Homo sapiens: one gene and its partner. The protein of the gene in region 2 interacts with the protein of the main gene of each other region in a pairwise test. Each region holds a gene or a part of one and is shown on either strand. Other genes may lie near its edges.

The links.
Region 1: the proteins of BAZ2B (region 2) and SEPTIN2 interact in binary tests that used the Homo sapiens proteins (3 or more experiments, as listed by UniProt).

The regions. Positions count from the first base shown.
Region 1 is NC_000002.12:241,311,817-241,319,122, forward strand, and holds the start of SEPTIN2 (septin-2), read left to right. Parts: upstream 1-4,108; 5' UTR 4,109-4,166; intron 4,167-4,361; exon of another isoform or gene 4,362-4,499; intron 4,500-4,605; exon of another isoform or gene 4,606-4,651; coding exon of another isoform or gene 4,652-4,739; intron 4,740-5,682; coding exon of another isoform or gene 5,683-5,783; intron 5,784-6,420; exon of another isoform or gene 6,421-6,528; intron 6,529-7,306.
Region 2 is NC_000002.12:159,613,319-159,621,479, reverse strand, and holds the start of BAZ2B (bromodomain adjacent to zinc finger domain protein 2B), read left to right. Parts: upstream 1-4,931; 5' UTR 4,932-5,238; exon of another isoform or gene 5,239-6,186; intron 6,187-8,161. UniProt on the Homo sapiens protein: Regulatory subunit of the ATP-dependent BRF-1 and BRF-5 ISWI chromatin remodeling complexes, which form ordered nucleosome arrays on chromatin and facilitate access to DNA during DNA-templated processes such as DNA replication, transcription, and repair.

The DNA of each region.
Region 1 (7,306 bases), about 82 Mb from region 2:
TAACCAAATTAAGGATATATCACTTTGGGCAGCCATGGATCCGTTTGCACTGAGAAGGCAGAGGGTGAAAGAAAGCTAGGAACTTCCTACCTATTCTCAGTGTCAAGCGAAGAGACATCACATGAAACAGGGGTAGGAGACACAAATACAGACGTCAAGCAAATATGCTCTTTAGAGTTGGAGGCAAAGATCAAGGAAATCTACTAAGGCTGAAGTAGATACTCTGCAGGGGAGGAAACATGATTAGGGGAAGGATGTTGGCACTTCTTTCTTACAAGCCTTTCTAGGATTATCTGACTCTACAAATGACATGAAGCTGTAACCTTGATTTGAAATAAGATTAATATGAATGCTAATAAAAAGTAGTAAGGGAGAGTATGTAGTCAATGTATTCTTACCAAATTAACAACAAGTATCAACAAGATGACTAACACAACCACATGATGTCCAGACACGTCTCAGAACAAATGTCTAGCTCATCTTCAACGGTATTCGAGGAACTTCAGTGTGCTTGGTAAAACAATAGCCTACTAGGGATTTCACTTCTAAAATGTCTCTGACTTTAGAAATACCAAAAAATAACATGTAACCAAGTTTTAAAATATTATACACATGAAAAAAGGTTCTTTTCATTATTTTCTTGGTTTCCAGATGTTGAACGTTGTGGTGCTTTTACAATTGAAGAGAAAAAGCATTCTGACACATTATACTGGTTGGGGTTCTCTGCTTTTCTACTTGGTCAAAAACCTTTACACGCATTTTGGACTTTGTGTCATCATAACTTGGCAATTGGGAAAGCCGCATGATATGCTTCTTTCAGAACTTGGTTACTTCTTACCAAAAGAGGGAAAAGCTTTCGTATCACCATTTGCCTATGGGATGGATGCACAATGAACGGGCCATACCAAATAAAAATATCACTTTGTACTCCAAAAAGCATGTTCTCTGCTTAAGCCCTTTCTGTAAGTTTCAGCTGGGACGCACTAATGGAGAATCCATATGACCCACGAAGGATCGTAAGATATCCCAGTGGACCCGGCACAATCATCTCAAATTCTGTTCAGGTCAGAGTATCTTAGATAAAACTCACTGAAGGGCATCAAGTCCTTCAGTACACAGTCTGAGCCAAGCCCTCTACCATTTGCCATGGCAAGAGTATACCAAATTCTAAACCTGTTGCTCACGTATGCCACCAACTATAAATGTCAGCCTCCTCTTTCCTAGTCTTCCTGTCCACTCAGCACCACCTGGAAAAACTCTTACTCGTCTTTTAAACCGCAGTTCAAGGACCACATTCTGTAGGAAGACTTTCCAACAGGTAACCACTGCCTATTTCCTATGTCCACACCTTACACATATTTCTATCATTGCACTTATCACACCATAATGTAATTACTCTTCTACAAATAAGTCTCTCACACTAGACCACAAGCTGCCTGAGGAAAAGAAAAGTCTATATCCTCTTTTTTTGTTGGCTTTTTGAGACACAGTCTCACTCTGTCGCCCAGGCTAGAGTGCAGTGCTACAATCTCGGCTCACTGCAACCTCCGCCTCCTGGGTTCAAGCGATTCTCATGCCTCAGCCTCTTGAGCAGCTGGGATTACAGGCGCGCGCCACCATGCCAGGCTAATTTTTGTATTTTTAGTAGAGACAGGGTTTCACCATGTTGGTCAGGCTGGTCTCGAACTCCTGACCTCAAGTGTCCACCCGCCTCGACCTCCCAAAGTGCTGGGATTACAAGCGTGAGCCACTGCACCTGGTCGAAAAGACTATATCCTCTCAACCTTTGTATCTGCAGAACCCTTAACCCTACACAGCAATTTCCAGCAAATATTTTTTTGAATTGAAATGAAGAAGTGAGGTCATGAGGCTGAAGTCAGACAACTGGAAGGCCAAAACAACAAAACCTGGAAAAATACGTATTTACTCAAGAAGAAATTCTCCCACCAGGCCACTGAGAAGTTAGCTTTGCCCACTGGAGAGGACACTGTAACAGGGATTCAAGTAAGCCTAGTGGCGCTGAGGGACGTGATATAGGTCAACTATATCTTTGAGGTGCTCTCCTTACACTCAATGCACTTTTACCCGAATGACGTTAATTTGACTCCTGATAAGATGAGCTAAGTCCCTTCAACAGTGCTTGGCACCAAGCAAAACTAATAGCAGTAACAGGAAAGTTTAATCCTCATGATGAATTATTTAATGGGGTTTCAAACGCTGTCCCTGAGACTTGAGGCAGTAGGCTCCAGCTCCATTTTCCCCAAGTCTAAAACTTGATAGGTTGATGTTTCAGACTCAGAGATTCGGTAATCCAAATGATGGAAATAATTCTTACCCAAACACCTTTTCAACTATTTTTAAATACTGTTGCCAAGCATCCTAATATCATGTGTACTTAATGAATTTAGCCTAGGGATACTTTTACATGTCAAAAAATCAAAATATAAACCTAAGCACTACGTTTCATCCAGTGTTTCAGCATCCCAGATTTGCTTCCCTAAATGAACATTAAGCTTATTATGCAATGTGCCGCTACCAGGAGCCTTAGACAAAACCCTAATTGTGACTTAACCTATCTTAATAGGGTTTTAAGGAAGTTAGCTGCTAAGAAAGTGACTATCCTTAAGCAGACACCAAATAAATGTGAAGTCATTGATTGAGGGCTTAGGGTATAGGTAGCTATGAATCTGAGGACATAAAACGCAAAACTGAGGGGCAAATCGTCATGTTCCTTAAGATTACGACTCATCCACATTCCTTCAGCCGTTTAATTTCACCATAATAGGCACTGTTTAATAAGCAAAGCCCAAGTCGACTTCCTTCGATTTTACATGGCGTCCAAACACCATGTCAAGTCTGACCCTCTCATTTTTTAAGTCGAATGGAGAGGATATGTAGCAGCTAGCCTTGAGCACCTAACCACTTTTCAAAGGAGCTACGCACAAAAATACCCTAGCAACATGCCACGGTGTCAGAAAGGCTCAGGTTCCCAACACCATGCGGGTCAGCCATTAGGAACTCAGGAAGTGTTTCCTCTAAGCGGGGGAAACCTAGGAAGGCTTCCTGAACGAGGGGTATTTGCGCCAAGCCTTGACGTGAGTCTCGAACAGTTGCAGTGCCTCCAGGCCACGCGGGAGGGAGGAAAGGACACCCCGGGCCGGGGCACAACCCGCGGGCCGGAGCCGCCCGCGCCCATCCCGCTCAGGCCGCAGCCAGGCACGGCACCCTCCCGTCCCCGAGCCACGTCGCTGCTCGTGGGCTCGCGGAGCACTCCCCAGGTCTCACCTCGGGCCCCACACCAGAAGGAGAAAGCTAGGGGCCGCGCCAGCTCCGCCCTCCCCCGCGGGGCGGCGGGCCCCAGCCCGGGCACAGGAAGGCCACGTCCCCGGGGAGGGACGCCCGACTCGATGGTCTGCGCAGGGCCCGTCGGCCCCACGTGACGTGCGCGCAGCCAATCCCAGAGAGGCCCCCCGATCATCGAGACGGCGGCGGTGGTGGGCTAGACGAGTTTCGCGCGGCCGCTCGCCGTCCCCCGCCCAGTCGTACTCGGCGCCCCAGCTCGGTGCTGCCGCCATCTTCTTGGAGGACAGGAGGAGAGGCGAAGGCTCCCCCTCCCCGTGATCGCTCCGCACTCCCGCCACCACCTGCCCTCCCGCGACCGCCTCTCTCCTCCTCAGTGGGCACTTGTCTCCTTCTAACAAACGGCCTTCCCCCCACTCCAGTTACCCACCGCAAGGCGAAGATTCTCATTACCTGTTCCACTCTTATAAGCATAAGAAAACCGAGCTCATAAGGTAGGAACTGTGGCGAAACAGGGACAAGCCGCCATCTTGGTAAAGGAGAAGAGGCTACGCTTGACCTCCCCCCCCACCCCCAGCCTCTATATGGCCAACTGCCGTGGGAGGAGCACGGCGCTTGCGCAGAGGCGGACAACGCGGACGACTCTGGGCTTGCGCACTCGGAAGCCGGCCGCATGGGGGAGGGGAAGAAGGCCAGGTCGCACTGAGCCAGGAAGCAGTTGGCAAAGGGGCGGGGTGACGCGGTGACGCAATCCGCCTGCGCGCTGGGCGGGGCGGGGCGGGCTGGGGCGGGCTGTGAGCGGACCGCGAGCGCTGGGCGGGTCCGCGGCGCGGTCGGTCGGCGCCTGTTCTCGGGCTGTTTGGCGGGTGAGTGTCTCGCCGGTGTACCCCGCACAAGTTGTGGGCCGGCCCTCCCGAGGAGCTGCGGGGGACGCGCCGCTCGTCCCATACTCTCGGGCGGTGGTCGGCTGGCTCTGGGGTGCCGGCGGGGCGGTGTGGGGGAGGGGCGGCCGAGCCCAGGCTCTTCGGCACTTATCGTGGGCTCCCCCGTCCCGGGCGGTCCTAGTGCCGGCGACAGTGGCTCCGACACGGGCAGGCCCGGGCGCGGGAGTGGGGATTCCGGTGACCCCTTGTTGACCCTGCGGGAATTCCTCTGCACTGTCGTCGGTGCTGGGCCTCGGGGCGTCGAGTGCGGTCGAGGTCGGGAGGTTTGGTGCTTGGAGGGAGGATACAGGTTTAGGCCCGACAAACACTTAGAGCTTGTGTGGCCATCTTGTCTTTCTAACGGTGCCATTTCCTCCCTGAGGCGTGGAGGACTGGCCAGCCCCCAAACCTCCAAGCCCATCGGCTGGATGCCGTGGATAAGCGAGGGGAGAGCGACTAGGCCCTGTCTGCGGGTACCTTCGGCGAGGAGAGGCGACGAAGGTCTGCACCAGCGAGGCACGGACAGGCAGCAGGGGGTAGGGTATAGGGTTGGAGGCCGCCGAGTTGGCCCGGGGATGAGGAGCAAACCTGTGGCTTCCGTGGTCTCAGTGGAGTCCCAACTGTGACCTGGCCTACTGGCCCAGACAAACCTGGCTTGCTTTTTTACCTTTTCGGTCTAATTCTTGTCAGTGCCACCAGACCTTGTCCTCTCTCCACGGAAACACACGAACCAACTACACTGAACTTCTTGTAGTTCAAACTTCTGCACCTTTGGCCATTGCCCAAACTCTTAAATCTGGCTACTTCCCACCTTAACTGCCTTCTCCTTACCTAGTCTGTGCTTGTGGGATTCCGCCCAAATTAGATTTCCTCCAGACAGGCTTAGGTGTTTACCTGATGTTCCAGATGGTATTTGTCCAGTGGACTATTGGTGCTGTGAGGGCAGGGCACATGTTGTCACCCATACTCATTGCCTCGGTTGGTGTCTAGCACCTAGTAGGTTCTCAAATACTTTTTGAATCACAGTGCCTGCCGATATATTTAATGTTTCAAAATAGTTCTGCCGTCATAAAGAAAAACATCATGGTGTAGGGGTCATGAAAGCTGATTCTTGATACTTCTGATTTGAGCCTCATTGTTTTCAGTGATTTTTGATAGCTCCCATTAATGGGTTCTTTGCACCACCCAGCATCCTAACTCATGATGTGTACTGTTATGTATAATCTTGGCATTGATCTCATTAGCTATAAAGGTTGTCCTGATTTTTTTTCCTCAACTTCCACCTTGATTTCTCTCACCAGTGCCACAGCCAGGAATAAAGAACAAGAGCGTTTTAATTAGATCAGATTTACATTCTGACTGGCTCTTAAACTAGCAAGGTGACCTAGGGAAAGGGGCCAGGGTTTCCCTCTATCATTCATAAATGTAATTCAGGGCCCCTTTTTATCCCCAATACCAGCATACAGAAACTGCTGTAAAAGAAGAAGTTGTGGGTATTTTTTTTTTTTTTTTTGTCTGGAGGAATGGGGACACCAAAACTCATTTGGCAGCAGAGGTGAGGTAAGGCCATTTGTATTGTCTGTTCTGTTAGTAGTCATACATGCCACTTATCCCTGCCCCAGTCCCTGTTAGGAGTGTTATGTGGGTATACTGAACGTGGACCTTCCCCGAATCCAAAGAATCCAGATGCTTTGAATAAGATCATGGACCTTCCGGGTTCTACATCGCCAGATGTTGTTCATCTTCTATCTTTTGTTTTGCGAAAATTGGTTTTTTATGTGTATTGGGGTTATTCTGTGGAAGAAATAAGCTGTGGGTCAAGATTAAAGAACTTTAAACAACTTCTGGCATGTGGAATAAACACGATCTGAAGGAACAAAATTTTCATTTGACTACATTTTTGGTCCAATTTGCACCCAGTGTTTAAGTTAATCACAGTGCTTGGCAGTTTGTGTTGCTGGATCAAGGCTTTCTCACTGAAAACCATGTGCTTCAGAGGTTCATAATTCCTCTTTCACCTTCCATTTCACATTAGTTAATAAATTATGAGAGAAAACATTGTGGATCCAAGTTATGTTTCAGAAAAAAAAAAACAGGAAAAAAAAAAGATGGCAGGAGAAACTTGGTAAAGTCAAAGCAAAGTTGAAATGTCAGTTTAAGACAAATAGTTTCTCCATTTTCCCATATGTGTGCACAGGGTTCAGTGAGGCTGAGGGGTTCTGTGGAGGTGCGGGAGAGGTGCTCTATGGTATTTCTATGTTGCACTGTGTGGGTTTGAAATCAGATACATGTAATAGGTGATAAGGTAAGTGCCTGCTCTTTTCTATCCTCAGCATTGGCATTTAATCTTTCCATGTGAACTTAAAGCTCATTTTATCCAATCCTTTAAGAAAAAAGCCACACCGTTAGGGATTCCAGTTAGAAATGGACTAAATAACATACTCATTTGGGGAAAATAAAAATGATTTGATTTATGTAGGACCTGTTTTCTAGTTTGGTCCCTACTTGTTTGGATTTTTAAAAATTCTGTTGTAAATGATGTGCCCCCATTTCTATTCCTTGATATTTGTTGCTGGTACTTGACTTACTTGAGATCTTATATTTAGCTACCTTACTAAATTATCGTATTCTAGAATTTTTTTAACCAGAGTATTTGTATTTTCTTTTTTTTTTTTTTTTTGAGACAAAGTCTTGCTCTGTTGCCAGGCTGGAGTGCAGTGGTGCGATCTCAGCTCACTGCACCCTCCACCTCCCGGGTTCAAGTGATTCTGCCTCAGCCTCCTGGGTAGCTGGGATTACAGGCAGGCGCCACCACACCTGGCTAATTTTTGTATTTTTGGTAGAGACGGGGTTTCACCATGTTGGCCAGGATGGTCTCAATCTTTTGACCTCGTGATATGCCCGTCTTGGCCTCCCAAAATGCTGGGATTACAGGCATGAGCTACCGCACCCAGCCGAGTATTTGTATTTTCTGTGTATTCAGTCCAATCAGCAAAAAAGTGTTTTCTTTTGATTTTCTTGTTTCATTATATTCAGTAAACTCACCAAGGTAGTATTAAATAATCATGGTGAAATTGCAATAT
Region 2 (8,161 bases):
CAAAGCTCTCTTTTTCAAGATTTCCTGTGTTTTTCTTATTTCTTTTTCCAACTGAATTTTTTAACAAATTTGTGCTTACAGCCGTGTTCTTAATCAGGGATGTTTATCAGAAGCGTCTTTAGAGTTGAAGAAGAAAAGAAATACTTGACCCCCCACCCAGACATGGTGAATTCTGGACGTTGGGGACATTTGAATTCACATAGTGAATTCTGGACACTGGGGACAATTCTAGATATTTAAAACAATCTCTACAGTTGATTCTGATAATCCCATTTTTAAAAGAGGCCTATAAAGCGTCATAGCCAGGTTTTAATTCCAGACTACTTTATGATTTGTTTTCCCTTATGTATTCTGGCCCATAGTTAATGACTGCAGCAACTACTGTAAGCCAGAAATTTCTCTAGTCCTCTTTCACTCCTTCCTCTTCCTTAATTCTATTTTCAGTTAGTCACCAAACTGAAATTTTACCTCAGAAATATCTGGCTGTAAATCTCCAATGCCACTGTCTCTACCATCATTCTTACGGACTGTTAAGCAATCTCTTAATACTACAGTCTATCATTTGCACTGCCTATACAGTTACTGTTCCCTCAAAACAAGGTCAATCATGCCACTCCTTTGCTAGCCTTTGTTGGCTCTTGTGATAAATTCAACCACCTTACCATGGTACTTAGGCCTTTTACTGTCAGGTCCCAGCCTTCATCTTGGTCATGACATCCCTATCATTCCTTTATCTCTGTCCTTCCCCATACTGAATATTCCCGCATACAGAATTTCTCACTAGTGGATGGACACCAGATCTAGTATCTCTGCATATTTACACTTGTTGTTTCTTTCACTTAGAAGACCACCTCCCACCCCGAACTTCTTTGCCTGGTAAGCTCTCAGTATTTGAGATGCAGTTCAAATAACATCTCTTTGATAAAGCCTTTTCTAGTCTCTCAGTGAGAATTAGTTGCCTCATCCTCTTTATTCTCACAAAACTTTATTATTTGTATCTTTATAATGTGATTTATATGAGTCTCTAATCTCCCAGGCATTTCACACTTTGTACATCAACCAGAATGTGAGCTTTTCATGTTTTTCCAGCCTCTAGCATAGCGCGTAGCATATAGCAAGCACTCAAATGTTTGTTCAATGAATGAAAACAAATAAAGCTTCATTAGGCTGTAATGATTGAAACAGAAACAAGATATAACAGTGGCCAGCTTGTTATACTGTTGAGATCTCTCGTTTGTTTTTCTTTGTAGTCAGCCTTCCTAGACTTCATTCTCTGTACATAGCAATTTCTTACTCTTTGAGGAACCATCTACAATACCCATAGTAGTAAGTTAGATAGCCATCCAACTCTATATCTACCTATTTAAGAAGTTCTGTCTTTGTCGTAAAAACAGATGCTGCTTTACAGAAGAAAGTGCAACAATTTAGTCCATATTGGTGGCATAGTCTGTGGGATAGGTAAATAGGTATAGAATTTCAGAGTTAATTATTCACTAAAATTGGAAAAGATCTGCTTGATCATTAAATTCTATCACAATTATGTACATGATGAAGCACTAATACAGATGATGATCTTGGGTAGAAGACGAAGTCCTGTTGGGAGTTAAATTATTTTATAACTATAGCAACTATTTTATCTGAAGTTTTCCCCCTCAACTGTATGATTATGTTATAATCTCTGAAATGATAAAGTATGATAACATGAAAAAGGGAAGGAATCATATTTTAAAAATAATTTAAGCACAATTTCTTAGTAAGAAGGTATCAAATACTTGGAGTAATCCAGTTTAAAATTTCTAGGAAATCATTTTTTTTTAAGAAGAATCAGTTTAAAAATACAGATTAAATTGAATAATTTTAATTTGTATATCTGAATTACCAAATAACATTAAATAATTTTAAATATATATTTTAATATAAAATTAAAGTTTTTATTATTTTTATTGAAATAGAGAAATATATTTATGAATTTGAGATACCTATGTCAGTCTTTCATTTAGCAACTATTTTGTTAATTATTGATTTCCATATAACTTCACCATTGGGAATGTCACATATTTCCTGAAGTATATAACGAGCCCTTCATAATAAAAATATATTTTAAAATGTCTTTAGAAGACATTAAAATCAAGGTTTTCACTGTCACCCCTTTTCCCCTTTTTTCCAACCTTTTGATGATGATAAGATGTATTTTGTTATAAGTTACTTCCTTGTGCAATCAAGTAAAAGACAACTTTGGGTTGTATATGGCTCCAGCTTGAAATTGCATATACATATTCTTATAAAAATTTTTGAATTATGATTCTAAAATTACTCAGGGGAATGACTGGAGTTTTTATATAGTAGTTAATCACTTTCATTACATATATTGTTTTTTCTGTAGATTAGACATATTTCCACAATTTAAATTAATGAATTTTATTACTTTAAATTATTTTTTTTCACAGGTTTCTTTTCTAAAATCCAGGCAATGTAAATTACATATCATTATGAAACCATTGTTTGGGAAACCAGTGTGGCATCTGCAATCCCAATATTTCAAAATATTATTGGAACCAAAAATTGAACCATGCTTTGCAGTATATTGTTTGAAGTATTTAAGCAAAGGATGTATTCTTAATTATTCGAGTTACAGTGTGCCACTTAACTTTATTTCAAGCGAGGTATATTTTGGGAGAATTCTTTATGAAAATCAAGATAACTTGAATCTAGCACTTTTTCCTTATCTTTTCAAAATTAAATATTTTCAACAGTAATGCTAATGATTAGGTAAAGTGTCAGTAATAGATTGTTAAAACATTAATATTCAATACTTTACGCATAGAAATATCAGTGTATTCCATTTTTTAGTTCCACATACTTAAAAATATTATTTATTTAATGACCACCATTATAGAACAATGCATTAACTTTTTTGTATGTGACTTGGGATAGAAGTCTTAGATACTAAGTGCATTCATACTTATATTTTAATCTATATTTTTCTTCTGGAACATTATTAGTAAATTTTGAGATTATAGAACTGTTGACCCAGTCATACATGTACAGAGCTTGGCCTCCGAGTTAATTAAATATGAGTTAATAATATATTATAAGGAAATTATTGTCCTTATTACAGTTATTAGGTAGTTACTCAAATTATAGCTTGAAAGGAATGCAGAGCATGGAAAACTCAGGATTAAATTATGCATTTGAACCTTAGGCCAGTTTTTACTGTAGAGACAGTTTGCTGCTAAAAGAGAAATTGTATGTCATTGAAATTAAATGCTTTTCTGGGGATGGAAGATTCCAGTTTTTAATGAAATTACTGAGTGTGGTGTAGTGAAATGATTAAAATCTGTATTCCGGGAATGTGGCAGGGAAAAAAAATCAATAAGTGCTAGCACAGCTTTGCTGCTCAATGTGAATCCTGAGAATGAAATAAACTACTACAAAAATAATAATTAAAAACATATCAGCACATTAATTTATTTAGCATCAGTCTCCTGAGACATCATCTTCACTAATTTTTAGCATACATTTTACTCTGTAATGAGCAGCCTTCTTTTCAGATATCCCTATTAGACAGGCAGTATTTCTGCCCTTCCCCCAGTGCTCCTGCATTGCAATCATTGTACTTGCACTTATTATGTTACAAATGACCGAGGTAAGGCTGACATTCTCAGTGCATGCAAAAAGACCGAGTCTGCCAAGCTTTTTTTTTTTCCTAATGAAGCAGCTTTGTGAAATCTCCCCATGTGTTAATACTAATGAAGATCCTCCAGCACAATTAAAATCACAGCCAGTGGCTGAAGAGGAAACATAAAACAATAGCATCTTTTAAGATACATTTATCCACATATGTATAAAATATACATAGATGATCAAATTATTCTCCGATAGCTTAATTTTTACTTACTCTTCATCCTGAAAATTAAATTATGCAATTTTTAATTATATGAACTTTGAGACTTTCTTGTGTTCTGGAGGGAAAAAACGGTACCTCAACGAACTTCTAAAAAAAAAAATACGTATCTTCTTGGCTAATAAAGTGTTATCAAGATTAAGGCTTTTAAAAAAATTGTTTTTAGGAATCTATAGGATGGGGTGCGGGAGGGAATGGGGCCTATTGTATCTTTAGTTTAACTTGATTGGTTGCAGGATTTGGGAATTGGGGTTGGGGGAGTGGAAGGGTAAAAACAAAGTTGGAAGAGATTCTGGGGGTAGACCATAGCATATGACTGCATTTGTAGTTTAAAGGAGCAAAGGGCTACCAGTCTTACTCATAACTTGATTTTTAAAAAGTGTTCAGTGCCTACAATTTGCTATGCTTTTTTTCTAATCTCTCAGAAACTTGAAAAAAAGCTATCGAGATTACCTTTTACAGTGTGTGCATATAACTTTAAAACGACTATTTTAACGTCTTTTATTTAAATTTTATTTTAACTTAGTGCATAAACATTACAGCCAGTTTAACTTGTCCGTGGAAAGGCAGTAGAATTTTACCCCGGGACCGTCTTGCATACTGCTTTTTTTGAGTTTTAACATCCGCAAAATCTTGGCATATTAATTTAGTTGGGTTGTAGAATTCTGAGTTTAGGAACAAAAAAAATTTAGGTGGAGATGGTTGACCTATGCTCCCTACTCTGTAGCTTTTGTTTTTTTAAAAACTAAGTTTTAAATCCCGTTTTCTGTCCTGTCTTCTTTAAAAGCAAAACAAAACATTTTAAGTTTCTTAACTTTTTCCTGGGACAAGGAACGGTGCAAACTCAAAGCTACAGTATTCTTGGAAAGAAGAAGCAACCCCCTCCCTTGGCTCCTTTAGGAGCTGATAGGTCATTTATTATTGGAACTGAAATGGTATAAACAATTCTCTCTCTTTTTTTCCCTTGTTAACAGCAACTTTCATTGTTAGAGAGAGGAGAGAGAGAGAAGCCTTGTTGGTTGACGTCACTTGGTTCATGAAGCCTTCGCCTAGAAGTGAAGCTGCTGAACAAACCTTGAGAAGAATCATCTCCTGCTTCAATCTGCTGCTGGATAGGAACTAATCAGAGAGAGAGAGGCGGAAGACGGAGAAGGAGGGAGTCGAAGGCTTTCCCGATCACAAATCTCACCTCCACTACAACTCTCTTTATACTTTTCTTGCAGAAATAATAATAGAAATAAGGAGGTGGTGGGGTTTCCAAAAATCTTAACCTTCAACCATCTGGGGAAAAGGCAAAAATCCCATCTACCGCAACTCTCAGTTCGAGAGTAAAGGTGAGTTTAAAATCCTCGGGCGTGAGGGGTGCGGGTGAGGATGTAAATTCCCAGTGTTACAAAGCCGGTGGAAACAGCAGCGGAGAAACTGCGCTCGGGCAAGCGGGGGACTCCGGAGTTGCTGCGTGGAGGCGCTCGCCCCGCCGCCCTCTCGCCCTCCGCCGCTGTTTATCCTCGCCGGTCGGTGCGGCTCTTTGTTGTGGTGGCCGGAAGGCTGGGGTGGTTCTCGGGGTCCCGAGTGGAGTTTGGGGGAGGAGGACACGGAGATGTGCCGTCCTGGGTGGGAGGTGGGGGGTGCGGCCTCAGGAGAACGTAAACTTTATTCCTAGAAGCCGGTGCGGGACTTCGCTGGAGTAGGGCCGTGGGTTGTGCTCCCGGCCGGGCAGGCGCTGCCGCCGCGAGTCCGCCGCCTTTGTGCCGGCCGCCCTGGCTTCGCGTCTCCTTCCTCTTCCCCTTCGGCTTCCAGCGCTCAGGTCGCCGCCAACAGTTTTGCTTCTTAAAAAACAACCTCTGTCAGCGTTGCGATGGCCGTTCCTACCCCGGAATATCCGCTGCTCCCCCACTCCCTGCCGGGGTAGTTTCTGGATCACCCCCCACCCCCGTCCGCCTCCTGCTGCCCTTTTTTGCCTCCGCCCCCTCTTCCCTGTCGGACTGACGAGCTGCGTCTGCCACCCCCACTCCCCGGCTTGGGCCTCTAGCTCTCCCGTGTGTAGCTGGAGGCTCTGAGTTTACTGAAGATGAGCGGGGGTGGGGGTGGGGCAGGTGGGATTGGGAAAAGATCTGGATACCTGGGAAGGTCTATGTCAGCACGCAGAAGGTTTGAGGAGCATTGCTTCTCATACAGTAAGGTCTGTGCCTTGGTCTCATGTTTTAGCAGTTCTTCCCCGGGAACGACCGCCAGCTCCCAACTCCTCTGCTTCCCTCTTTTAATCTTCTTGTCGCTACCCCTCCCCCCAGCCCCCGTTCTCTTTCGCGGCTCCCTCCCCTTTAAGTAGTTTCACGAACCCCAGAATTGGGATTTGAGAAGGGGAAGGAAGTGTTTGAAGAGTCAGAGCTGGCTCTGTTGTTTGGGAGATTTTCTCTTCTTTTCTTTCTCCCTCTGTATTTATCTTTTGTCTGTTGCTTCCTTATAAAGAGGGAAGCAGCTGCAGTCCTTGGCCGAGTTGTTGAAATTTATCCCTTTGTGTATATTACAATATCCTCCATTTTTTTTCCTGCCCTCTAAACAACAAGCGTTTCGCCATCTTGGGCAATTTTATTCCCAAGTCTCTCTCTTTTTTATTTTTGAGGAAAGGAAAGAAGTATTAGGAAGTGTGTCTGGATAAGTCTCAAAGTTTAGGGAATGTTCAGGGGGCCCAGTGACGTCATGTAAACTTTACGGAGAAATTTTCCCAAGAGTAAATTTTTTGCTTAATTTTTCTCCTGTTTTATAGGATTGTGTAACTTACAGGTTACTGATAAGTTGTGTGGCTTATTTTTGTGTTTTGCTCTCAAAATCAGTATACGAAGTCTGCGTATTGTATGTTTTGGTAACAGGTGGAAGATTATATGCAAAAAATGGTAAAAAACTTGTGCGTCATTTGTTATTTATCTGGTTTTTGTGTACTTTTTTTTTTAATTTAAAGGTTTCAACTGTTATCTGTAGTCAGTATATTCCCTTTCTTATTTGCTCCACTCTCCCTTATGGATTTTTTGAAAATTAGCTTGGTTAATATTTATGTATGGTTATTTTAGATTATCTGGCTCCCCGTTTCTAATAAAATGTTCTGGGGTTTTCTTTTTCTATTATTTATTTACATTTTGAAAAGAAATGACTATGGAAAATACCTTAAGATAATGGATACTTTAAAATTTAGTAGCAGATATTAAGTCAAACAATTATTGAGTATTTAAGAGGCAGAATTGATTTTAAAAGTTATTTTATAATCGCTAGCTATAAACTCTTTGTCAGCCATTATGAACAGATAAACAAAAACTAGCACTGTTTTAATTTGCTTGTCTAACATAGTTTTTCGCCTCACAAAAGTTGGTTTGGTCACATGACCAAGCTTAATGATACACTGACTAGTATATAAATAAGAGGCACTGTATATTGAATGGGAAAGTGGAATTCTGTCTCCTGTAGTCATTTTCAGTCAGCATATTTACATCTCTTCTAACAAGGACATGAAACTGTCTGTATTTAATTTGCATTCTCTTTGTCTTCTGGGTTGAGGGAAAAACACTGACTACAATTAACTTAAAAAAAGCTAATAGAAACAATTCTGAATACATTGAAAAGGTTTGTGTAACACACAGAAATTTATGTTCTATATGGTAAGTTTTTATTTCTGTAGCAGTCTTCTTTGGTGTTATCTATTTATCCAGGAATTTGCTTCATGTAATATGCTATATAGAAAGCTTGACTGAGTTGAGTGTCTGCCATTTATGTGAATTGTAGGTAGGTGAAAAATGTTTAAATAGTTAAAAGCACATAGAACAGATGGTTCTAAATTATACATGCAACAAAGGACTAGAAGATTTGGCAGATTATAAATGGCAAGCAACAGAGGATAAGCAGTTTAAGAAAATGGTAGTTAAGTACATTTGATGTCTCACACCTATTGTAAACACTGTACATATTATTGTCACTCTGCTGCATAATCAGTAATTTGGACAACATTAAGACACTCGTATGGTTCAGATAGAAAAAAGTAATTTTTACAAGTATTTGAAACAAGTGGTTGAATTTAAAATTATTTTAAGCCTACGATGATGAAGAGTCTTTTTTTTTTTTTTTTTTAGAAAATCAGATTGTATGCTTTAAAAATACAAAGTTATTTATGAGAACTTAATATTGTGTTCTTATAATGGTTGGAGAGAAACAGGAATGGGTACATATTTTAAAATCCAGATAATAGTAGCTTCACTGTTCTCACATGTT